4 separate regions of the Homo sapiens genome follow, and all the other regions are linked to region 3. Evidence: fine-mapped expression QTL. A gene starts in region 3. Each other region holds a variant in brackets. All regions are shown on one strand. Distances are between the middles of the regions.

Region 1 (5,867 bases), 430 kb before region 3:
CAGAGGGGGACAGAGGTCTCTTGGCAGCTGGGCCAATGGCCCGTGGTCACCCAGCTGGAGTGTGTACCCACCGCAAGTGCTGCTCCCTGTCCCCCTTGGGAGGCCAGGCCTGGGCTCGGCCCCTGGCACTGACCATCAGAGCTGTAGTCTGTCCTGGGGCCAGGTTTGACGGGCATTTCCTGTCTCTGCAGGTCCCTGGTGCTGAACCGCCTGCGTCCAGTTGCCAGCGGGGGTGGGAAAGCCCAACCGGGCTCCCCTTGGTGGCGGAGCAAAGGCTACCGCTGCATCGGAGGGGTCCTCTACAAAGTATCTGCCAACAAGCTCTCCAAGACCTCCGGCCAGCCCAGTGATGCGGGCAGCAGGCCCCTCCTGCGCACAGGTGAGAGGTGAGGGCGGGGGCGCTGGGAGATGACACCGACCGGCTAGCGTGTGGTGGGCATTGCAGGCCAGACCCCCTAACCTCCAACATGCTGTGGCTGCTCTGGGCCTTGGCTCACGCCCCTGTCTTGGGGAGGAGGTCAGGGGCCTCATGCTCCCAGGGAGCCAGTCCAAACAAGCACTTCCCAAATGGGTCACGTCCCATCCTGGGAGTTAATTTCACTCTTCCATACACCCGGCGCCTTCGTAGCCATCCCTAGTGAGACCAACAGGGCAGCCGGAGAATGGAGGGTGCCAGGAGGCCTTCCTCTGCCATCCCCCAGGAAGGGCCCTGGAGTGGCGCCCACCTCGCGTGGCTGAGCGGCCCCTGATTTTCTGTGGGGTGGGGGAGAGTTGCTCACAAGCACCATGTTTCGCTTTTGGAAAAAGGATGATGCCAGGTACGGCAAACACGCCCGGGCGAGCGCACACCTGGGGCCGCGGCGCCCGTAATCGCATTGGCGACGCCTCGACAACTGTGTCTGGAGGCAGCCGGCGCCGCCACCTTGCGCCCTCCCAGCCCAGGGAAACAGGCTCAGGAGAAGGAAATGCTTTGGATTCACTTATCCTACAAATTAACTAGAAAAATATTTTGGTTTCAGTCCAATTTTACCCCCTTTCTTGTCCATCAAAAAAAAAGAGGGAGATTGCAGGTGGTGTTGGGATTGCAGAGGCTGGGCCATGCTGGCTCCCCGACCCGCCTGGGACCTAGAGAGAGAACAGGTTCAGCCCCTGGAGGAGGTAGACTCCGACGGCAGGGTCTGCGGGGGTCAGAGGAGAGGCAGGAAGCGTACCTCCCTGGAAGCCAGCCTCACTGGCCGCCCTGCCTGGCTGTGTTCCTAGCATCCATCTCTGGGCTCCAGGGGCTTCTGGGCTGTTTCCTGGGCAGAGTCGCTGGGAGCAGCACGGGGGCCCTGGCACCTGCCCCACAGGGCTCTGAGCCACACTGTGGCTGGTCAGTGCCCATGACCATGCCTGTAGCCTGGTGGCTGGGGCTGGGGGGTCCTGGTGAACTGGGCAGGAATAAATCCCCACTCGCTGAGGATCTGGTGAGAAGCCCTGGGTCCCTTCCTCGGCACTGTGTCACCCCTGTGTGTGCCTCCCACTCACTGAGGATCTGGTGAGAAGCCCTGGGTCCCTTCCTGGGCACTGTGTCACCCCTGTGTGTGCCTCCGCTTCCCCACCCGTACCTTGAGGGACTGGGCTGTGTGATTTGTGCGTGTGGTCTCATCTCTGCTACACCCCGGGTGCTCAGTGCAGGAGCTGGCTCAGAACATGGGGGCCTTGGTGAGGCTTTGCCCCTGGGGGATGCTGCCGTGGGTTGGGGGATAGGCCTTCCTGTCACCCAGCAGGGCCTTCTCTGGTTACCTCTGATCCTCGGACTCTGGAGCTTGGTGGCCTGTGGGGCTACACACAGCTGTTTGTATCGTGGAGGGGAGGGGCCTCGGGCTTCTCTCCAGCAGTCATTTCCCTGAGTGAAGTATAAGCCCCTGGCCAGTCTCTGGCACAGCAGGTCCCAGGCGCCTGTGGCCGTCCACCAGCCACCAGCCATGTGAGCCAACAGGGACCCTGACCAGTGGAGCTCCCGGGGCCAGCAGCAGGTGCTCTGAGGACATCGTGCTTGACCCCCAGGGACAAAGCCATGAGGTGCCTCTCTGCTCATGCCGGGTGGTCCCACCTTCCCCTGGGCCTCCTTGGCAGAGGCCAAGCCCCACGTTGGCTGGCACTGTCCTGAGTGCACTGACACTGCAGGCACAGTCCTGGCACTGGCTTTCCTCTCTGGTCCTAGAGGCAGTGGGCAGAGCAGCCAGGCTGATCCCTCTGCCCAGGGAAGGGCACCCCGAGCCCTCACCTGCCTGCCTGGGTGGGAGGGTGCCCTGCATCTCCCATGGATGCTGCCTCTGACGTCCCTAGTGCAGGGAGAGGCGTGGGCTGAACACCAGTGAAGATTCCTGGGGCCCACAGGTGTAAATACGCAGACTCGTGTCCAGTCAGGTGGTCAGGGAGGCCTTTCTCATGAGCTGAAAACTGAGAGGGCCCAGAAGGGACAGAAGCAGCAAGAGCATCCTGAGGCCGCCATGCAGAGGCCTGGGCAGGAGTGGGAGGGGGCGTGAGGCATCGCAGGACCCTGTGCACAGCCAGCAGGGGGAGGAGATGGGTTGGGGGCAGGCGGGGTCTACCTGGCACCACTGCACCCACATTCAGAAAGCTCCCGGTAGTCACGATAGTAGTACTGACTGAGGTTGATAATTAAGTGGCCAAGACAGCAGCCATGGAGACCATGATGTCCTGACGTACGCGAGAGCCCCAGGCGGCCAGGATAGGCAGCAGAGGCTGCTCCTGGCAGTCAGTCTGCAGGCCCTGCCCTGCTCTGCGGAAGCTGGAGCCAGGGAGGGGATGCCTACTGCCCTTTCCAGAGCCAGAGCCCATCCCAGGGAGGACCCACCCACTCAGGGAGTGGCCCCCACTGCAGCAGCTGCATCCCACTCCCTGCACAGGGCCAAGGCTGGCCCCGCCTGTTCACCCAGGTCGCGGTGCGTCCTTGGGATTCTCCCTGCACCGTGCACCCGCGGGACCCACGGAGGGGCTTGTGGCATGGGTCCGTCTCCCCGCACCGGGGCCCTTGGGTCGTCTCAGCCCTCGCCGGGATCCTGTGGCCCACGTTTGTTGGGCTGGGTGGGCCTGTGTGGGGAGGTGCACCTGCCATCCCAGCTCTCCCATCCCTCAGTGTCCACAGAGACGCCTGTGGCAGGCAGCAGGTTTGCACTTGGCCCCCTCAGACACGGTGCCCACCACCCGGATGGCCCAGGGTCTGAGCTTTGGGGAGGAGGGAGTGCATAGCCCTGGCCCGCTCAGCAGTGGGGAGGAGAGGGAGGGGCTGCACACTCCTCCCTGGGAGGCTGTGGTGCTGCTGTGTCTCCCCGTCGGTGCCAAGTGCTGAGCTCCGCAGAATCTCGCCTTGCCATTTACACACATGGCAGAGCCCTGGCGGGCGCAGAGCCCCTGACGTCACCACACTGTGAACAGTCTATCCCGGCCACCCTTGCTGACTGGCCTCTGCCTCCGTTGGCCCTTCCCTTGGCCCAGAGCCATCAGAGAGCCAGTCTGGTTCCCCCAGCCCTTCTGGGGCATGTCTCACCCCTG[C/T]ACCAGCAGCAACCCAGAACTCCTTCATTCAGCCTCAGCAACGCCAGCAAGGAGGGTCTGGCGCACAGAGGCTGGTGCCAGCCAGGGCAGGCAGGGGTCCAGGGGCCTCCTTGCTCCCACCCCTGCCCCTGGGGAGGCCCGCCTGCCATCGAGTAGGGCTATGGCCTCCGGTGTCCCGCTGGCCAGCCTTGGTGGCGACTGTGGCAGTCCTGGGGCTGTGCAGAGCCCAGTGAGGCCGCACTCGCCCTTTGGGTCGACAGGCGAGGCCACAGCTCCAGCTGCCTGGGCCACCACCGGCCCCGCCTCGCCATGAGGAAGGTAGATGGCTCCCAGCTGTGGGATACCGCTGACCAGCCCACTTAAGAGGAATAATAATTAAAGAAATAAATTTCCTCCCCTGGTGTCAGCAGAAATTTGACTTCAACAAGAAAGTGCAGCAGCCTTCTTGGAAGGGGTGGGGGTGGCTGTCCTGGCTGACCCCCTGGGCTCTGGGCCCCTGACGGCAGAGGACAGTATGGCTTCTACCCCCAGCTTCCCCAGTCCCTGAAGCCGAGCCCTCCCTCCTGGGCCCGCCTGCCACCTGAAGGCCTGAGCTCCAGGGTCCCTCCCCACAGAATCCTGTGTGGGCCCCCAGTGAGCATGGCCCATATGTGGCCACCATGAGCCTGATGGCTCCTGTGGTGGGGCAGAGGCCCCAGTCTCTGGCCACAGGGCTGGCCTTGGCTTGTTCTGTGTCCCCAAAGCCCCCAGCCACCTGTGGCCGTGGCCCTCCCTGCTGTGGGCCAGCTGCTGCGTGTTCCTGGCACGTCCGGCCTCTGCGCCTCCCCTGCTGGTCACCTGCCCACCCTCCCTGGGGTGACGAAGGCCCTGTCGGCTTGCCCCCGCCCCACACTGCCTCTTCTGGGGCACCCTCTGCCGCTGGCTGCCTTCTCCCAAGGGCACAGCCTCCATGTGCCAGACGGACGTGCCCTGGAGGGCCTGGTGGGCGCGCTGTGAGCAGACCAGGGCTTGGCGCAGCCCTGCCTAACTTCTTGGGAGAGTGCTGGCCTGGGAATTGGGGCTGCCTGCGTGCCCCGGTCATCGTGGATGTTGTCCCTTGGGCCAGGCAGCAGCTGTCCAGTGGGTGCTGGCCGGAGCAGGGCCTGGAGGTGCTGAGGAACCTCTGACTGCAAGGCCCCCACCCCGCTTGCCTTGCAGAGCCTGACATCCAGCGGTGCCCAGAGCTGGCACTGGGGCACCGAGCAGGGGGTGGGGCTGGTGGGAGCCGAGTCTATTCTGAGAAGATCCCGGGGAAGTGAAAGTTCTCTGGAATGCATGGCGCCTTCTGCTGTGGAGCTGCTGGGGGTTATTCAGTTGAACTTTTTAGCACTTCTCAGGCAGCCCTTGCTTCTTTTCCAGCCAGCTATTTTATGTGCATTTTTTAACACTGCAAAGCATTTGAAAAAGTGCCTCCTGTTCTTGTCAGAACTCCTGCCGTGAGCCTCACACTGGCATTTTTTTAAAGAGCACAAAGTGGAAAGGGAGGTAACCCCTCCTGCTGCACCCGGTCCTGCCAGGCGGGCACGTGATGCCAGTGTGTCCCTGCCTGGAGCAGATGGCGTCGCAGTGTCACTGGCAGCCTGGGCGAGAGACTGGGAACCAGCAGTGCCGACAGACCGCCGCATTGCCGCGTCCCTCACCCCACAGGCTGGCAGGTGTGAGGGCGTGCCCGTGCCGTCTGGACTGGGCCCTGCTGCCCACCCGGGGACAAGGGTCCCGGCCTGAGAACGGGGGCTGCCCTGAGCACCCCCGCGTTGGTCCCTCCGCACCAAGACCCTCATCACCCTCCCTTTGCCCCTGGCCCCCCACACGCCTCAGGTTTCTGCGTTCTTCAACGCCCCCTTTCCTGCCCCAGGTACCATGACTAGCTCCTGCTCCTGCCCCAGCCGGGCTCGCTGGCCACTCAGCTCTGGAGCTGCCCTTTTGAAACTTGAGACGGGCTGAGTGGGGACAGTAGGCAGGGCCCCTGAGGGTGAAGGGCAGCAGCACCACTGACCCTAGCTAGGGAGCACTGGGCTGGACGCAAAGCACAAAGCGAGGAGTGGGGGGGGCTCCAGCCTGGGGGTGCGAGGGAGCGGAAGCCTTGGGTCCTCGGGTGGGAGTCTGCGGCTGCTGGGCCATCTGGGAGAGTGAGGACGAGGCTGCTCTCTGGTGCTCAAGAGTGGGGCAGGTCTGGCTATTTGGGGCTGGGCGGCTTTGGGACATCCCTTTTTAAACCAGGATGGCTTTGTCACCACCTCAGGTCCCCAGAATTTCTGAGTGATGTC
Region 2 (5,867 bases), 160 kb after region 3:
CGTGGAGAAGCTGCAACAGGTGGACAGCCTGCATCCCCACAGGATGAGCCTGGAGCCCTGGGTGGCCTACAGACAACATCGTGGGCACAAATGTGGCGTGTTCTTGCTGTAAGCGGCGAGCTGAGAGCTGGGAGCAGGGTGGGCAGCCTGGGTGTAGGGGGGAGGCGAGAGAGGCAGGACCCAAAAGCACATCTGCCCTGGGCCCCTGTGGTGGGCAGTGAGGGTGAGCACCCGACCCAGAGGACGGCCATTCCGTGGGGTCGTGTCTGCCCTGTGGGTTGGGGAAGCAGGGCGGTGGTGGAGAAATGGGCACGGGCACCTCTGCAGAGAAGATGCAGAGCAATGAGCCCTTCTGTGTAGTGAGAACCCGCTCTGCACCAACCTTGGCCGATGCTTTCTCTTGCGGTCTGGGGACTGTCCTTCCCATAGGTCAGAAAACTGAGGCCCTGAGAAGGGTACTCCCACTGGCCCAGGTCACAGGCTGAGTACTGAGCCTGGTGTTCGCCGGGGCCGCAGCCTCCCTCAGGGCGCTCAGGGTCCCTGCAGTCCTGGCAAACCTTCCTGATGGGGACAGTCCGGGGCAGGAGGCAGGTGGGGATGCAGGTGGCTGGTGGCTCCATTGTTCTCAGAAGCAAGGCACGAGGTGGGGCGGTTGATGGCACTGGGGAGGATGTTTCCTGGCCCGTGCAGAGGGTGGCGCCTGGTCAGGTGGGCAGGGAGAGGCTGATGCTTGGAGTCAGTCACCTGCAGGAATGTTGTCATTAGGACGGGGGAAGGACTGGACGAGGATGTCACAGTGGCGACAGCCCCCACTCCATGGCAGGAGGAGAACGCTTTTGGGAATAGTGGGGTTTAGGTAAAAGGGCACTCAAGGGTGGGGGCCTTCACTGAGGCTGGCCTACAGACGACATCTGGGAGGGAGTCAGGACCCAGGAAGGCAAGTCCAGAAGGCTGGGTGCACATAACGGAAGGAAGGGGAGCGCACCTGTATGTGTGTGCGTCTTGCATCTGTGCACATGCTGTGTGTTTCTCTGTACCTGCATTTGCACGTGTTGTGTGTGCATGCGTGTGTGCACATGTGTCTGTGTGCATGTATGTGTGGTGTGTGTGCACGAGTGTCTCTGTGTGTGCATGTGCAGGTGCCGGCATGGGTGTAGTGTCTGTGCACATGTGTACATGTGTCTCTTCACACATGGTGTTGAGGTCTTGCATGGGCGCATGTGAGCATGTGCATCTTCTGCCTGCCATCACTGTCAACAGCTCACAACAGCCAGCTGGACATAAATAAAGCTTTGAGTTTTGCAGAAATGTGGCTGACAGGGGAAATTCCTCCCCACCATTCCCTGGGGGCATCCATGGAGCCCCCACGCACTCTGGCTGTAGGTGAGGATGGCATGAAGCACAAAGCTTGGTTTCTGTCCTGCAGAAGATGCAGACACTTCACTGGGGCTGCTGCCCCAGAGGCACTGTGCCCAGGGCAGGGAAGGGCGGGGAGGAGAGGGCAGCCAGGGGCTCTCCCCTCAGGACACTGTGTGGGTGAGGTGGGCAAAGCTTGACAACAGGGGTCAGTTCCTTTCTTGCAGAAAATCCCTCCCCCCTACTACAGGGAGGGCCTGCATGGGTGAGGTGGTGCCAGACTTGGGGTGCCAGGTCCCGGGAATGACCTCAGTTACCCTGTCAGCACCTGTGGGCAGAAGCTACCATCTCATCCCTGCTTAGACCTGAGTGGCCTTTGTCCAGCACCTGGAGGCCGCTCTGAGAAAAGGCTGCAGCTCGAACACAAACAGGCAGCTTCTACCAGGGCCCCCAGTCAGCTCCCTGCAGGCCGATTCCCCTTGGGGACAAGGAGGATGGGATACGGGTCAGGGCCTGTGTCTTGCTGGGGCGGCCTCACAAGCTCTGCCCTGGCCTCTGTAGGAATGGGCCTGAATGGCGCTTCAACCGATTGCGGCTGAATCCAGAAGTGCTGTCGCCCAACGCTGTGCAGAGGTTCCTCCCGATGGTGGATGCAGTGGCCAGGGACTTCTCCCAGGCCCTGAAGAAGAAGGTGCTGCAGAACGCCCGGGGGAGCCTGACCCTGGACGTCCAGCCCAGCATCTTCCACTACACCATAGAAGGTGTGGGCCACGTGGGAAGATCCAGCCTCAGAGACCCTGGAGTGGCCAGGGACGGGGATGGGGGACTGAAGGGAGTGTGGGGAGGCAGCCAGGAGGCCCGGGGCTGCCTTGTGCTCAGCAGTGCATCCTCCCCGCAGCCAGCAACTTGGCTCTTTTTGGAGAGCGGCTGGGCCTGGTTGGCCACAGCCCCAGTTCTGCCAGCCTGAACTTCCTCCATGCCCTGGAGGTCATGTTCAAATCCACCGTCCAGCTCATGTTCATGCCCAGGAGCCTGTCTCGCTGGACCAGCCCCAAGGTGTGGAAGGAGCACTTTGAGGCCTGGGACTGCATCTTCCAGTACGGTGAGGCCAGGGACCCGGGCAGTGCTATGGGGAAGGGACACCATGGGGGCCCAATTTCTCCCTCTCCACCACCCAGTGGGGAATGGAGGCCACAGGGAGGGGTCGGGGATTCCTCACCTTCCTGCCAGGGAGATTGGTGCGAGGCTGGGGCTGGGCTGGGCTGATCCGGAGAATTTGGGATGAGAGCAGGGAGACTTGGGTGTCGGGGCAGTCTGGGCAGGAGGAGGACACTGAAGGATGTCTCCCAGCACCAAAGTCTGAGGGCTGCCTCC[C/T]GCTCCCCGGATAGGCGACAACTGTATCCAGAAAATCTATCAGGAACTGGCCTTCAGCCGCCCTCAACAGTACACCAGCATCGTGGCGGAGCTCCTGTTGAATGCGGAACTGTCGCCAGATGCCATCAAGGCCAACTCTATGGAACTCACTGCAGGGAGCGTGGACACGGTCAGGCCGGCAACCAGCCCCACCCAGAGAGGGTGATGCCAAGCCTGCCTCCCAGGCACTGCCTGCCAATGTCACACGGCGCCCACGTGTCCCATCCCCAGGCTATGGGCCCCACATTTCTTACTTGGGATTGTGATGTGATAAACACGTTTGCAGGTTGCCATGGTTGGAATGGGGGGTTCCTTTCTGTGGAGGACTCAGGGAAAGGGGTTTGGATGGGCATTAGGATTTGAAGTCTTGGGCTCTGTCGTTCTCAGGGTATGCATGTCTGCACCCCTCACAGGGAGGTTGTCCTGGGAGGGGTGTCCCGGGGGCTGAGTCCTCCTGTGCAAGGTCTGACCCTGCAGCTGTGTCTCCTGCAGACGGTGTTTCCCTTGCTGATGACGCTCTTTGAGCTGGCTCGGAACCCCAACGTGCAGCAGGCCCTGCGCCAGGAGAGCCTGGCCGCCGCAGCCAGCATCAGTGAACATCCCCAGAAGGCAACCACCGAGCTGCCCTTGCTGCGTGCGGCCCTCAAGGAGACCTTGCGGTGGGTGCTGGCTGAGGCCTCCCTGTGGCCCTGGCCCCCTGCTGGAGAGCAGCCCCCACTGGGTGGTGGCAGACAGAATCTGGGGCTGATAAACAGCGTCACCCAGCAGCCCATTCCCCTGCACCTGCTCTTCCTCCCCCTCAAGGACAGGGAGCTCTTCTTTCTCTGGAATCCCTCTTCAACGCCCTGGGGATTAACGTGGAGCATGTCCTTCTGCGCTCGGGGCTGCTTAAGTTAGGGGAGGTTTGGCCGGGCTCAGCAGGTGCAAGGAAGCACTTCCTACGACCTGGGCTTCCCATGGATCTGGGACCTCTGCGGGTTCTTCGGTAGGAAGGGTGCAGAGAGCACAGGAAGCCCCATCCAGCTGAGGACCCTTTCTATGGATGCCCCCACCTCCAGGCTCTACCCTGTGGGTCTGTTTCTGGAGCGAGTGGCGAGCTCAGACTTGGTGCTTCAGAACTACCACATCCCAGCTGGGGTGAGTGAGCCCCACACCCCTCGAGCTGAGAACCTCCCTCCCCAGTCATTCCCTGATCCCCGCTCTGCACCGTCCGCAGACATTGGTGCGCGTGTTCCTCTACTCTCTGGGTCGCAACCCCGCCTTGTTCCCGAGGCCTGAGCGCTATAACCCCCAGCGCTGGCTAGACATCAGGGGCTCCGGCAGGAACTTCTACCACGTGCCCTTTGGCTTTGGCATGCGCCAGTGCCTTGGGCGGCGCCTGGCAGAGGCAGAGATGCTGCTGCTGCTGCACCATGTGAGCAGGCCCGGGCTGGGGAGGGGCCTGGGCGGGGTCTGGGCAGCATGGGCGGGGCTTGAGCAATGTGGGACTGGCCTCGGCAGAGTGGGAGTGGCCTGCATGTTTCCTGGACTGGGCAGAGCCGGTACTGGGAGAACCTGGGCCAGGTTGAGGCTGTGTAGGTCCTGGGCAGGAGTTGGTATGGTGAGGAGCGTACCATCTGGGTGAGGTTGCTGCTAAACCGGGTCAGGTGGGAACTGGGGAAGTCGGGTGGAGCCTGTACAGGATAGTGGGGCTTGGGCAATACCTGGGCTGGATGAATTCTGGGCCTGGGCTGTAAGGTGGGGCTGGTCAGGAATGAAACAGGTTGGAGGCCAGGCTGCTGTTCCCCCTTCAGCATAATCTCTGCAACTTTGAGGGTCTGAGAAGGCTGCACCACGTGCATGGGCTGCGGACCAAGCCAGATGGAAACCCGGCTTCTGTCCTAGGTGCTGAAACACCTCCAGGTGGAGACACTAACCCAAGAGGACATAAAGATGGTCTACAGCTTCATATTGAGGCCCAGCATGTTCCCCCTCCTCACCTTCAGAGCCATCAACTAATCACGTCTCTGCACCCAGGGTCCCAGCCTGGCCACCAGCCTCCCTTTCTGCCTGACCCCAGGCCACCCCTCTTCTCTCCCACATGCACAGCTTCCTGAGTCACCCCTCTGTCTAACCAGCCCCAGCACAAATGGAACTCCCGAGGGCCTCTAGGACCAGGGTTTGCCAGGCTAAGCAGCAATGCCAGGGCACAGCTGGGGAAGATCTTGCTGACCTTGTCCCCAGCCCCACCTGGCCCTTTCTCCAGCAAGCACTGTCCTCTGGGCAGTTTGCCCCCATCCCTCCCAGTGCTGGCTCCAGGCTCCTCGTGTGGCCATACAAGGGTGCTGTGGTTTTGTCCCTTGCCTTCCTGCCTAGTCTCACATGTCCCTGTTCCTCTTCCCCTGGCCAGGGCCCCTGCGCAGACTGTCAGAGTCATTAAGCGGGATCCCAGCATCTCAGAGTCCAGTCAAGTTCCCTCCTGCAGCCTGACCCCTAGGCAGCTCGAGCATGCCCTGAGCTCTCTGAAAGTTGTCACCCTGGAATAGGGTCCTGCAGGGTAGAATAAAAAGGCCCCTGTGGTCACTTGTCCTGACATCCCCATTTTCAAGTGATACAACTGAGTCTCGAGGGACGTGTGTTCCCCAGCTGATCGTGTCAGCCTCATGCCCCAGGCCTCATCTTTCATGGACCAGGCCTTGTTCCAGGAGTGGGTGTTGGGTCCTCTGCTTCCTGTGCTGTCCCCTGGGGAAGGTCCCGAGGATGCTGTCAGGAGATGGAAGAGTCATGTGGGGTGGGAACCTGGGGTGTGGTTCCAGAAATGTTTTTGGCAACAGGAGAGACAGGATTGGGCCAACAAGGACTCAGACGAGTTTTATTGACTCATTTCTCTGGTTGATACGGAGCCATGTCATGTGCCACGACCTGGGGTGGGCACAGGGAGGCTGCAGTTTCCTGCGTGAACCTGCCTTGGGCCTCATCTGCTCCTAGCCCAGCAGAGAGAGTTGACCCCTCCTGAACTGGCCACTCCCCAGTGCTCCCGTGCAGGGAGAGGAAGCACCCAGTTTGAGAGTGTACCCAGCCAGACTGTCTTTATCTCCATGGATTTTCATCAGGGCAAA
Region 3 (5,867 bases):
ACCCACTCAGCGTCAGCACTCGGCTTCTTCCTCACCATTCCTGAGGCCGCCCACCTGCCACTCTGACCTCAGGCCTCTGCAACATCCTGCTGGCACCATGGCCTTGGGGAGGTGCTCCTGGGGCACGGGTGCCCCCCCAGGGACCAGAACCCACAGAGTGCCAGGCTCATGGCTCTTCTGGCAGAACTCTTGCCATGTGGCTCCAGGGAACATCTGAGTAGGGTTGTCAGAGAGCCTCTGGATGGTCACCAAGAGGCAGAGCTCCTGCGGCCACCAGCCATCCTGTGGTGTGGGCCAGGCCTGTCATTTCTGTGCCCTGGCTAGGGCTCCCATGATGCCCCGTGTCAGGGGTTAGACTGGTCTCCCCTGGTGGTGGGAGAAAGGGGCTCCTTCAGGACTGCACTCTGGACAGAAAGTCAGGGCTGGGCTCAGAATGGTCTGGGTGGACGGTCATCTCAGCCTGGAGTCAGGGCTGGGCTGAGAACGCCCTGGGTGGACGGTCGTCTCAGCCTGGAGTCAGGGCTGGGCTGAGAACGCCCTGGGTGGACGGCCGTCTCAGCCTGGAGTCAGGGCTGGGCTGAGAACGCCCTGGGTGGACGGCCGTCTCAGCCTGGAGTCAGGGCTGGGCTGAGAACGCCCTGGGTGGACGGCCGTCTCAGCCTGGAGTCAGGGCTGGGCTGAGAACGCCCTGGGTGGACGGCCGTCTCAGCCTGGAGTCAGGGCTGGGCTGAGAACGCCCTGGGTGGACGGCCGTCTCAGCCTGGAGTCAGGGCTGGGCTCAGAACAGTCTGGGTGGACGGCTATTGTCAGGGACCCCAAACAGAGGGACCGGCTGAAGCCATGGAAGAAGAACATAAATTGTGAAGATTTCATGGACATTTATTAGTTCCCCAAATTAATACTTTTATAATTTCTTATGCCTGTCTTTACTGCAATCTCTGAACATAAATTGTGAAGATTTCATGGACACTTATCACTTCCCCAATCAATACCCTTGTGATTTCCTATGCCTGTCTTTAATCTTTTAATCCCATCATCTTCGTAAGCTGAGGAGGATGTATATTGCCTCAGGACCCTGTGATGATTGTGTTAACTGCACAAATTGTTTGCAGAGCATGTGTGTTTGAACAATATGAAATCTGGGTACCTTGAAAAAAGAACAGGGTAACAGCAACGTTCAGGGAACAAGAGAGATCACCTTAAACTCTGGTTGCCTGTGAGCCAGGTGAAACAGAGCCATATTTCTCTTCTTTCAAAAGCAAATAGGAGAAATATCGCTGAATTCTTTTTCTCAGCAAGGAACATCCCTGAGAAAGAGAATGTATCCCTAAGGGGAGGCCTCTGAAATGTCTGCTTTGGGGACGGCTGCCTTTTACAGTTGTAGATAAGGGATGAAATAAGCCCCAGTCTCCCGCAGTGCTCCCAGGCTTATTAGGATGAGGAAATTCCCGCCTAATAAATTTTGGTCAGACTGGTTGTCTGCTCTCAAACCCTGTCTCCTGATAAGATGTTATCAATGACAATGTGTGCCCAAAACTTCATTAGCAATTTTAATTTCGCCCCGGTCCCGTGGTCCTGTGATCTCGCCCTGCCTCCGTTTGCCTTGTGATATCTTATTACCTTGTGAAGCATGTGATCTCTGTGACCCACATCCTATTTGTACACTCCCTCCCCTTCTGAAAATCACTAATAAAAATTTGCTGGTTTTACGGCTCAGGGGGCATCACGGAACCTGCCGACATGTGATGTCTCCCCCGGACGCCCAGCTTTGAAATTTCTCTCTTTTGTACTCTGTCCCTTTATTTCTCAGACTGGCCGACACTTAGGGAAAATAGAAAAGAACCTACATGAAATATCGGGGGTGAATTTCCCCCGATAGATGACCATCTCAGCCTGGGGTCAGGGCAGGGCTCAGAATGGTCTGGGTGGACGGCCGTCTCAGCCTGGAGTCAGGGCAGGGCTCAAGGTCTGGGTGAATGGCCATCTCAGCCTGGAGTCAGGGCTGGGCTCAGACGACCAGCAGTCTTTGACCTGCCATGCCGGGAGCCACATCTCGTGACCAGGTCCTGGCCTTCCACGCTGGCCAGACGCCTGCATCCAAGACGTCCTGGTCCCTCTGACTGCACAGTGTGACAGCCACCACCCAGCCATGCCCTGTACTCCTGGATGTGATTTGCTAATTAGGGTCAATGGGGTAAGATGCCCAATTAAATATGAATTTCAGATAAACAATTTTTAGCATAAGTATGTCCCAAACATTGGTAAAAATGACTATTTGTTGTTTATCTGAGATTCAGATCAAACTGGGCATCTTGGACATTTTATTTGCTCAACTAGAAATTCATGAGTGCCTAAGGAGCTCAAGGGACATTCCAGACCCCCCAAATCTGTGTCGGACACAGGGGCAGTCACAATGGGGTGCAGTGGTTGTACCTGGTGACTCAGGACATTCGTCTACCTCCTCATGTCCCCCCTGCCTCTAGCACCACAGTGTCATGCCCTACCCTCCAGGGGGCCCAGAAAGCAGTGCTTTTGCCCAGGGCCATTGTCCCCTAGATAGAGGGTTCAGCCCAAGGAGGGCAGCCCTGATTCCCAAGCCTCCTGCAGCACTGACTCTCCACTGCAGCAGGCCTGGGGTTTCTGGCCATGGCTCGCCTTTGGCTCACCTCTCCAGAAGGTCTCTGGAAGCTTCTTCCCCACAGGGTCCTCCCTTCCACTGTAACCTTCCCTGGTTCTGGGAAACAAACTTGAGAGGCCCAGGCGCACCCCACCTCTTCTCTTTAGGTCTCCACAGCTTTTCCTCTGCCTCGTCCCCAAGGGGATCACTCTGGCCTTTCCCCTCTCCAGTGACCCTCTCCACACCCTCCCGGCTTCCCCCTTCCTCTGAGCACCCCAGATGCCAAAGGACAAGGTGAGGGAGCCTTTGGAGAAATGTTGCCTGACGTCACTGGTCCCCCACGCTCGGGGGACCCACACGGCCCGCCCTGCAGGCAGCCCCCTCCCCGCAGGCAGCCCCCTCCCCGCAGGCCGCCCCCTCCCCACCTCACCTCACAGCTGCAGGGGTCGGGGCTCGGAAGTGCTGGGGGCAGTTCAGGTTGAAGGCTGGGCAGCGTGCACTTCTCCCCCAGCCTCCTGGGGCCCGGGCATCACCGGAAGCGGAGTTTGTTCCCACTTTGTATCAGTCGCAAAGAAAGAGCACCCAATTGGACAAAAGGCAAGCAGGCTGCGTTCCTGGCCCGGAGTGGAGAAGAGTGAGCCCCTGCCCTGTCAGGGAAGCTGAGGCTGGGGGTTGTGAGGAGTCCCGTGCCGGGAGGAGGCTGCAGGAGCGCCTCAATGCACCTCTTGATACCACGCATGCTTAGCAAGGCCTGGGGACTGTCCTCTCGGGCAGGACTTCCGCCTTGTAATGACATGTCGCTGATTTAAAGGGAACTGGGGGTCACCAGCTCTGGTTTGTGCAAGTCTGGTGCGTTCTTATCTCCCTTGTATTTGGCAGGGGATCCTAAACCTCTCCTGGTATGTTGAGACATCTGGAGCTCATTAAGCCTCGGCGCCTGTAGATAAAGAGATTAAAGGAAAAAAGAAAAGAAATCCCGCCCTGGGGCAGCTGGGGTAGGATTAGCCTGGAGGCCACGCCTCTGCAGGGTCTCCCATAGGCTGGGCCAGCCTCTGCCCTCCCTGCTTCCAGAACCCCGGACGCTGATGGCCTGTGGCGGCCACTCTCCGCCCACCCCGGAGCCCAGCCTAGCGGGGAGAAGGCCGCCGGCCCGTTCGAATGTCCCTCTGCTTCCAGGGTCAGCCTGCACGCCACTCTCACAGAGGCCAGACGGGCGGTGGGGCGGGGACTCAGTTCATCCTCTGCCTGAGGAGCAGGTCTCGGGTGCGACTGAGCTTTTCACCCTTTGAGAGGAGTCAGGGACACGCAGCGTCTCCAGCAAGCTGGTGGCAGAAACTGATGGAGCATCCTAATCACAAAATAGGAAGAGAGTTTGCAAAATAGGAGCATTTACCAGAAGCCTCTCTCTCTCCCTCCCTCCCTCCCTCCCTCTCTCTCTCTCTCCCTCTCTCTCTCTCTCTCTCTCTCTCTCTCTCTCTCTCTCTCTCTCTCTCTCTCTCTCTCTCTCTCTCTCTCTCTCTCTCCCTCCCTCCCTCTCTCCCTCTCTCTCTCCCTCCCTCCCTCTCTCTCTCCCTCCCTCCCTCTCTCCCTCCCTCCCTCTCTCTCTCTCTGTGTGTCTCTCAAGTAGAAGTGGGGTCTCTATGTTGCCCAGGCTGCTCTCGAACTCCGAGGCTCAAGCGATCCTCCTGCCTCAGCCTCCCAAAGTGCTGCGATTACAGGTGTGAACTACTGGGCCCAGCCCCAGGCCCTCTTACAGGAGTGGGCTGCCTAGAAACATTCCAGTGCCATATCCCACTCCACTCCGGGTGCAGGGACAGGACCCCTGCCACCCCCAACCCAGGCCCAAAAGGAGGGGCCAGGAGGGGAGGGGCCACCAAGGCAGGTGAGCTGCTTAAGAGGAGCGAGGGCTGTGGACAGTCCTGCGGACTGCAGGAGGGGCCAGCAGGATCAATATCCAGCTTCTCTCTCCTGCTGGGCTCCTGCTGGGGCTCCCTGTTGGTCACCCCAAAACCTACTGTCTCTCATCGCTGCCGGGGCTGGCCAGGCTCAGCTGCTGGTTCTGCCTTGGGGCACCTCCTAGGTGGAGTCAGGGTGGCTGAAGGCTTCCCCACTCATGCGTCCACTGTCTGGACATCCTGCCCCTGCCCGACCTCCAGGAGTTGCAGTGTGTGAAGGCCACACCACAGCCCCTCTCTGCTGCCTCCCTCATGTCTCCTCCAGAATGATGCTCTTAACCCCCTCATTAGAGGCCCCCATCCTTCCCAACTGTACCTCTTGACACCCTGAGTACAGTTCAAGAGACCCTGAAGAAACTCAGAAAAGTGACAACTGGAGGCTCTGGGAGAGAAGAGTGAAGTCACTCACATTTGTTTTTATTTACTTATTTTTTTTTTAGAGATGAGGTCTTGCTTTGTTGGCCAAGCTGGTCTCTTGAACTCCTGGCCTCAAATGATCCTCCCATCTTGGTCTCCCAAAGTGTTGAGATTACAGGTGTGAGCCATTCTCTCCGGCTTACTCTGCGTTTTACAGGATGGGATGTGTTGATGAAAGAAAGCCAAACTCTAAAATATTTGAAGAGGTTTATTCTGAGCCAAATGTGAGGACCATGACCTCACATGACAGAGACTCAGGAGGTTCGGGGAACATGTGCCCAAGGTGGCCGGGGTACAGCTCGATTTTATACCCTTTAGGGAGAAAGAAGTTACAGGATGAGATGGTTTGGATTTGTGTCCCCGCCCAGATCTCATGTGGAATTGGCGGAGGGGCCACGTGGGAGGTGATTGGATCGTGGGGTCAGACCTCCCCCTTGCTGTTCTGGTGATAGTGAGTGAGTTCTCAGGAGATCTGATGGTTTGAAAGTGTGACGTGTCCCCCTTCGCTATTTCTCCCTTGGGCTCAAGGGATCCACCTGCCTCGGCTTCCCAAAGTGTTGGGATTACAGGTGTGAGCCACTGCGCCCGGCTGAAGACTCTGTTGATCCTGATTTTTTCCCCATTGCTATTATGGCTGTTTTTCTCCTCTTCTTTTCTTGACTGGTCTCCCACAAGAATTATCCACATTTTTAAGGCTGGGCGTGGTGGCTCACACCTGTAATTCCAGCACTTTGGGAGGTTGAGGCAGGTGGATAATTTTAGGTCAGGAGTTTGAGACCAGCCTGGCCAACATGGTGAAACCTCATCTCTACAAAAAATAACAAATATTAGCCGGGCATGGTGCACAAGCCTGTAATCCCAGCTACTTGGGAGGCTGA
Region 4 (5,867 bases), 38 kb before region 3:
CTGAGCACCTCAAAGGGCGCGGAGGGCGGGACGACCCTTTCCCTGGGGTGGGGCAGGAGTGGTCTGGATTTGGAAGCAGACGGGGGAGGGAAGAGGCTTCAAAGCGGAGGAGGAGGGAGAGGGAGGAGGCGGAGTAGGGACCCTGGGGCGCAGGTGAGGTTTGGACAACCTGAGATGGAACAGGAGCCGGCCAGGCAGATCCAGGAAGGAGCATAGTTAAGGGCAAATGAGGTTGGCGGGGATGGTTAGGCCACAGGCACATAATCTTCGTTCTTTCTAGAGTGCTTGGAGCGCTTTCCCCTGGCAGGGGTGGCCTGGGAGGAGGGGAGAAGGGAGGAGAAGGGCAGGCGCCTCCAGGGGCCCCTCAGGCTGGCTCAGTTGCCCAGAGGAAAGCAGGGCGTGCTCCCATAGCCTTACAGGAGCCTGGAGCTGCCGCAGGGGTTGGGAGCTGCAGCTCCAGGACTCCTGCCAAATTTCTGGGACCTGCAGGGGGCTGAGTCCCGGCCTTTGAAGACTGGTGCCCTGGAAAAACGGCTCCTGTGCAGGCTGCCTCCCAGCTCTGTCCTCCCACACTTCGTCCTCCCACAGGTGAGGCTGGGGCCCAGCCGGGTCTGTCGAGTGCTAAAGCGTCCCTGGGCCCGTTGGAGGCTGTGGTTCCAATTTCTTTTGCAGCATCTGCTCGGCCCCATGTAGGTCCTGGATGCAGAGTGTGAGGCCGCCCCCGTCATAGCATAGACCTGCGCCCTCCTCACTAGACTCATCTGCCTCCTACACTGAGTCTTCCCTTGGTCCTATTCTTTATTCTGTTTTTTCCCCGGGAGCCAAGGGAGTTGACCCGTGTTCTCACTGGGCCGCTGGAACCCAACAGCATGGACATCCCGGTTGGTGGGCACCCAGCTCTCCCCTCCGGAGGTACTGTCACACCCTCTCCCGCCTCACCGGGGGCACAGGGCCCTGCCAGACCCAGGTGATGTCAGGAAATGCTGTCCTCAGTCTGGAGGACCACCGAGCCACTTTCCTCCTCGGAGCCCTTCCCTCCAGCCCAGGTGGTCACACAGCTTTCACCCCGTGTCAGGTTTGCTCTTTTCTGCTTCCTGCCTTCATTTCCTGAATGACATCCTTTTGAGCATGTATGATGACAAGCAGGGCTGGACCCTGGGTCTGCAGCAGTGAACCGGCCCAGTCACCTGCCCTCAGGGGTCTTGCAGGAGGTAGGTCTCGGAAAGAAGAAAGGGGTAACTGCTACCCATAAGGTGGTTGGGAAGGGCTGCCCCTGGCCCCAGCGTGACTGCTGCCCACCACCTCCAGGGCCTCCGCATCCTCTCCCGCACTGCAGACCAGCAAGCCCCTCCCCTGCTGTGGCCTTTCCAGTAACGGCTGCTGGGAGAGAAAGTGCCAGTCGGAGAGTGAGTGTGCAGCCAGGTGGGGCCATTTCCCCTGCGTCCACATAGTGGCCCACCCAGCAGGACTGTCCCGTTCCTGTTTCCCCTGGTGCATGCTCTAGGGATGCCCCAGACGGGCCCTGCCCTCTGACCCCTGCCTGTCCGGGCTCAGCGTCCTCTGCTCCCTTTGTCCTCTGATGCTCCAGCCCTTTCTGCCGCCCAGCCTGTGTGTGGATCAGGGCTGTTTTGGGGGTGGGCTTAGAGGGCACGGGATGGAAGTTGTTTGGAGGGGAGGGGCCATATGCAATTTGTTTATCATGTGCATTTTTTCATTTGCCATTCTCACTGTGATTGATTTGAATGAATTTGGCACTGTGAAATCTGCAGAGTCAAAAATCAAAAAGAAAAATCAAAAGAACATCGGCATTGGAGGCACATGCAATAAAGGAGTCCAGGTGGTAGTTGGAGGTTGGAGGCTGGAAGGAACACACAGGTCTCAAAGGAAGTGGCTGAGGGATCTGCAGAGACTCATCTGAGCCTGTGGCTGATGACAGGGTGTTGGGGCAGCCACGGCCGAGAGGGCCGTGCTCGGAGCCACACAGCTTTCAGTGCTCACGAGAAGGGACTGGCCCTCCCCAGGGCTGACCAAGTTCCTCAGTACTGCATCCAGCTGTGCTCCTGGCCTCATTTCTTCTCTCCTTCATGAATTAACTCCCAGACACAGCAGCCCCTGGAGGTGGTGGGGACTAACCAGGGACGGGAAAGGGTCAGTCAGCCTGTGGTCAGCAGGGTGGGCGGGTGCAGGCCTGGTGTTCCCAGGATACTTTGCTGGGTCATGCAGTTATCCCCATCACGTATCACTCCAGCTCCCTGGCGGGCACAGCCTGTGGCTGTTCCTGGAGGCACCCCTGGAATGAGTACAGTTCATGGACAGGCTTCAAAACAGCCCAGAGCAAAGATTTGGGTCTGAGGGCGGGGGCATGGCTCTGCGGTCTTCGCCTCCACGGTTCCCTGACTTGGTCCTGCAGTTGCCCAGGAGAGGCAAGGCCACCTCCTTGTTAAGGGCTTGCTTGTTCCTGGTGGTCTCTGTCAGGAGCCCCCACCCCGCTGGCCCCAGACTCCAACACCTGTCCAGGTGTGTGAGCCAGTGTACATCTGGCAGCAGAGAGGCCTGTACGAGCACAGCCCACAGGCCCCAGTGACGTTTGTCAAGTGTTTATTCTATCAACATTCTTCATTTCTGGCCTGATTTCAATCCTAGGAGGTGGGTACAATAAGTCCAATTCTAAAAATAATAAAATGGAACAGAGACCTGAGGAGTTGGCTTCATGATGGGGGATCAATGTCCCAATTTTAGCACCAAAGTCCTGCGACCTGGGAAGCCCTCGGTGCTGGGCAAACCAGGATGGTTGTTGCCCTGATTCAGGATCACCCAGGTAATAGGTAGAGGGCTGAATTCAAGCCCGGCTCAGCCGCATGGAGCCTCGGCCTGCACTCTGCACTGCTTCTGAGCGGTGCTGGGAGCAGCGCTGTCCAAGGAGCCCGGGTCATAAAACCCAGCTGGTGAATAGGAACCATGTTTGTATGTTCTAGAAGATGAAAGAATAGAATTGAATTGAATAATAAAGATCAGAGTACATTATGCACAATTAGGACACATATATTTTAATGAAGAAAGTAATTTAAATAAAAATGTGTTTTATTTATGCTTATATATTTTTGCTTGTGTATATATGTGTGTATATAATGTTTTAGATATACAAATATATGTGTTATAAGTATGTTTGGTATTTTATTTCATATTTTATATTTATGTTTTATGTTGTAAATATGTTTATC[G/A]GTTATAAATCTATGTGAATATGTTACGTAAATGTTATGTGTGTCAGTGTTTTGGGTGTGGATATATTTATTAACTTTTTAAAGTGTAGATCTCAATCAGGAAAATGTGCAAGCTTCCTGTTTAGATGAAGTGGATGACCTTCCTTCCTGCCCTTATTGTATTCACTGTCAGAGAGCTGGGTGCCAGCAAGCTGCTGTGTGGGTATGTGCGCCAACCCCGGTGTAGGCACGGACGGAAACACACTGTGGAATTTTTCCAGTGAAGGGGATCTTGGCGTGATGTCCAGAGGCCTCCCCGAGTGGTGTCCTGAATGAGTCCCACAGTCTCCATCCCTGTGCTCTTGCTATGGACTGCCAGGCTGAATTGTTGACACTGAAGATCATCGTGCTCCCGCTACACTTATACCTCTGACCCTTTTTCCTTCTCACCTTGGCTGTTGGGAAGCTCAGATCGTAACCATTTGCCCCAGGCACACGTGTAGGGCCTGGCCAGTTTCTTGCTCGCCCCTCCTGGCTCTGCCCAGGTCATAACTTGCTTGCCTTTCTCCTCCCCTTGCCATGTGGAACCCTGGTTTGAGTGTCTGATTCTTAGGGCTGTGGAGCTTTAGCCCTTTTGACTCTACATAGTTTTGGTGACTTGGCTTCTTTCACACTCCAGTTCCTGGCCCTGCCTTGGGGGCTCCATGCACAGCTCTCCCTGGGAACAGGTCTTCTCCTTGCCCTGTCTTAATCTGGGGATAGGTGTCTGGGCGTCCCCAGCGAGACCCCTCTCTGCTGCTGACAGGGCTCCCAGGAGGAACAACAGTGGCACCCCAGAGAGGTGTGGGGGTGCTGAGAGAATTGGGTCAGCAGTGGGGGCCTCACACTCTGGCCCCTCACTCCCTGTGCCTGAGCAATTCATCAGGTGCTGTCTTTCTTAGACGGACAGCTGTGTGCAATTGTGTTCTGTTTCTGACTTTGGGTTTAGTGACATCAGTAAGCCTGAATGGTCTCCCCGGCGCACAATCCTTCTGGTTCACAAAATCAGTCAAACACACAGGCACCAGGGAGCTCTTGAACCAGAGAGTCCGGTACTTTCATTTTGTCCTAAAGGTACAGATTGTTATCATTTTCATTTTTTTTCAAGGCAACAGTGAGCAAGGATTTTGTTATCATTTTCAAACTGACACATTTACCACACTGACAATATTCTCTGACCCAGCACAGACGTTCATAACAAAAGCATCAGTGACATAGTTACACATGTTAAAACATTGAAAACCACTATTCTAATAAACCACAGTTAAAGAAGAAGTCATATTGGAAATTAAAATACCTAGAAATGATTAAAACTAAGATACTACTATCAAAACTATTGGGCTGCAGTAAAAGCTGTACCTGAGAAAAATCTAACCCTATATATTTGCATTGGGAAATAAGAAAGGTTAAATTCTTTTTTTCTCTGAGATTGAGTCTTGTTCTGTTGCCCAGGCTGGAGTGCAGTGACGTGATCTTGGCTCACTGCAACTTCTGTCTCCCGGGCTCAAGTGATTCTCCTGTCTCAGCTTCCTAAGTAGCTGGGAGTACAGTTGTGCACCACCACGCCTGGCTACTTTTTGTATTTTTAGTAGAGATGGGGTTTCATCATGTTGCCCAGGCTCGTCTTGAACCCCTGACCTCAGATGATCCACCCTCCTCGGCCTCCCAAGGTGCTGGGATTACAGGCGTGAGCCACCGTGCCTGGCCTTATTTTTGAATTAATAATGTTCTCAGCCATTAGAGTGATATTTGGTGAGTAGGAGGGAGACTTTTTTCTTAGGTGATCAATGCTGGAGTTATTAGGGGGAAACTGGTGGGAAGCCTGAAGTTAGCAAGCTCAGGGTCCAACCTCCACATTTCAAAACTCAACTGAAGAAAAGAGACAGGACTGAGAATGCCTATTAACAAAACAGAAAAATCAGCACAGCCATGGCTGTGTGTTTGAAGGAACAAAAATTAGACAAATATCTGGCAAGACTGAATAAGGAAAAAAGATCCACAGATGAATAATGTAAATGAAAAAAATGAGTCATAATGACAAATAACTCCCAGATTTTGTAATGCAAAAAGACAAGATTTTCACGTCCAGTTAGCATGAGGAAAGAGTGTGAAGCCAACCTTTCTATTTCAACAATGAGAAAAAATGGAATTATGTACAAAAATTATCATTTCTTTCAAATGCATTGGAAAATGGTGGGTGCAAATCTGAAGGAACTGCCAGTCTTGGGGGGCCCCTTTCTCGCAGTGGAGCTGAATGGTGCTGAGGGCGGGTTAGTCATCGGCAGAGCTCTACCTGCGGGGAGAGACTGATGTTTCTTGGTTCTTTTGCATATAATTTCTAGCACACTACCAAAAATTATAAGAATTACAGGAGAGTGTGATTTTCAACCAAGAGATAAGCTATTCAATAGAAGCAGATGCACAGATAACCCAGATGAAAGAATTAGCAGACAAATGCTTTACAATATTCTTGTAAATACATGAAATGAGATGGAGGAAAGGATGAACAAAATGGATGAAAAGATGGAGAATTTCAACAGAGAGATGAAAGCTATGAAAGTAGGTGCTCATTATTTGTTATTAAAAATAAAATAAATAATAAAAATAAGTGTTTATTATATTAACCAA

Evidence for each region. PIP is the estimated chance that this variant, and not a neighbour inherited with it, causes the effect.
Region 1: its variant is fine-mapped to the expression of LY6S-AS1 in subcutaneous fat (GTEx, PIP above 0.99).
Region 2: its variant is fine-mapped to the expression of LY6S-AS1 in lung (GTEx, PIP 0.91).
Region 4: its variant is fine-mapped to the expression of LY6S-AS1 in subcutaneous fat (GTEx, PIP 0.98).

Annotation. Positions count from the first base shown.
Region 1 is chr8:143,469,910-143,475,776 of GRCh38, reverse strand. ZC3H3 (zinc finger CCCH-type containing 3) reads left to right here. Exons shown (of 12, transcript NM_015117.3): 5 at 192-379. Among named protein-coding and RNA genes, the nearest start is that of SNORD149, 33 kb to the left of the region's middle. RefSeq lists an enhancer at 4,499-5,200. The variant C/T (reference allele first, on the strand shown) is at 3,562.
Region 2 is chr8:142,873,273-142,879,139 of GRCh38, reverse strand. It overlaps CYP11B1 (cytochrome P450 family 11 subfamily B member 1), which reads left to right. Exons shown (of 9, transcript NM_000497.4): 2 at 1-108; 3 at 1,918-2,117; 4 at 2,255-2,458; 5 at 2,745-2,899; 6 at 3,262-3,428; 7 at 3,828-3,906; 8 at 3,986-4,183; 9 at 4,654-5,867. The coding sequence ends at 4,767. Among named protein-coding and RNA genes, the nearest start is that of CYP11B1, 3.6 kb to the left of the region's middle. The variant C/T (reference allele first, on the strand shown) is at 2,731.
Region 3 is chr8:143,036,750-143,042,616 of GRCh38, reverse strand. LY6S-AS1 (LY6S antisense RNA 1) reads right to left here and starts at 3,408. Exons shown (of 6, transcript NR_149322.1): 1 at 3,048-3,408. It overlaps LY6S (lymphocyte antigen 6 family member S), which reads left to right. Exons shown (of 4, transcript NM_001406478.1): 4 at 1-1,778. RefSeq lists enhancers at 1-11, 588-1,163, 3,185-3,736.
Region 4 is chr8:143,074,501-143,080,367 of GRCh38, reverse strand. It overlaps a transcript of LY6S not described here. Among named protein-coding and RNA genes, the nearest start is that of LY6L, 3.2 kb to the left of the region's middle. The variant G/A (reference allele first, on the strand shown) is at 3,222.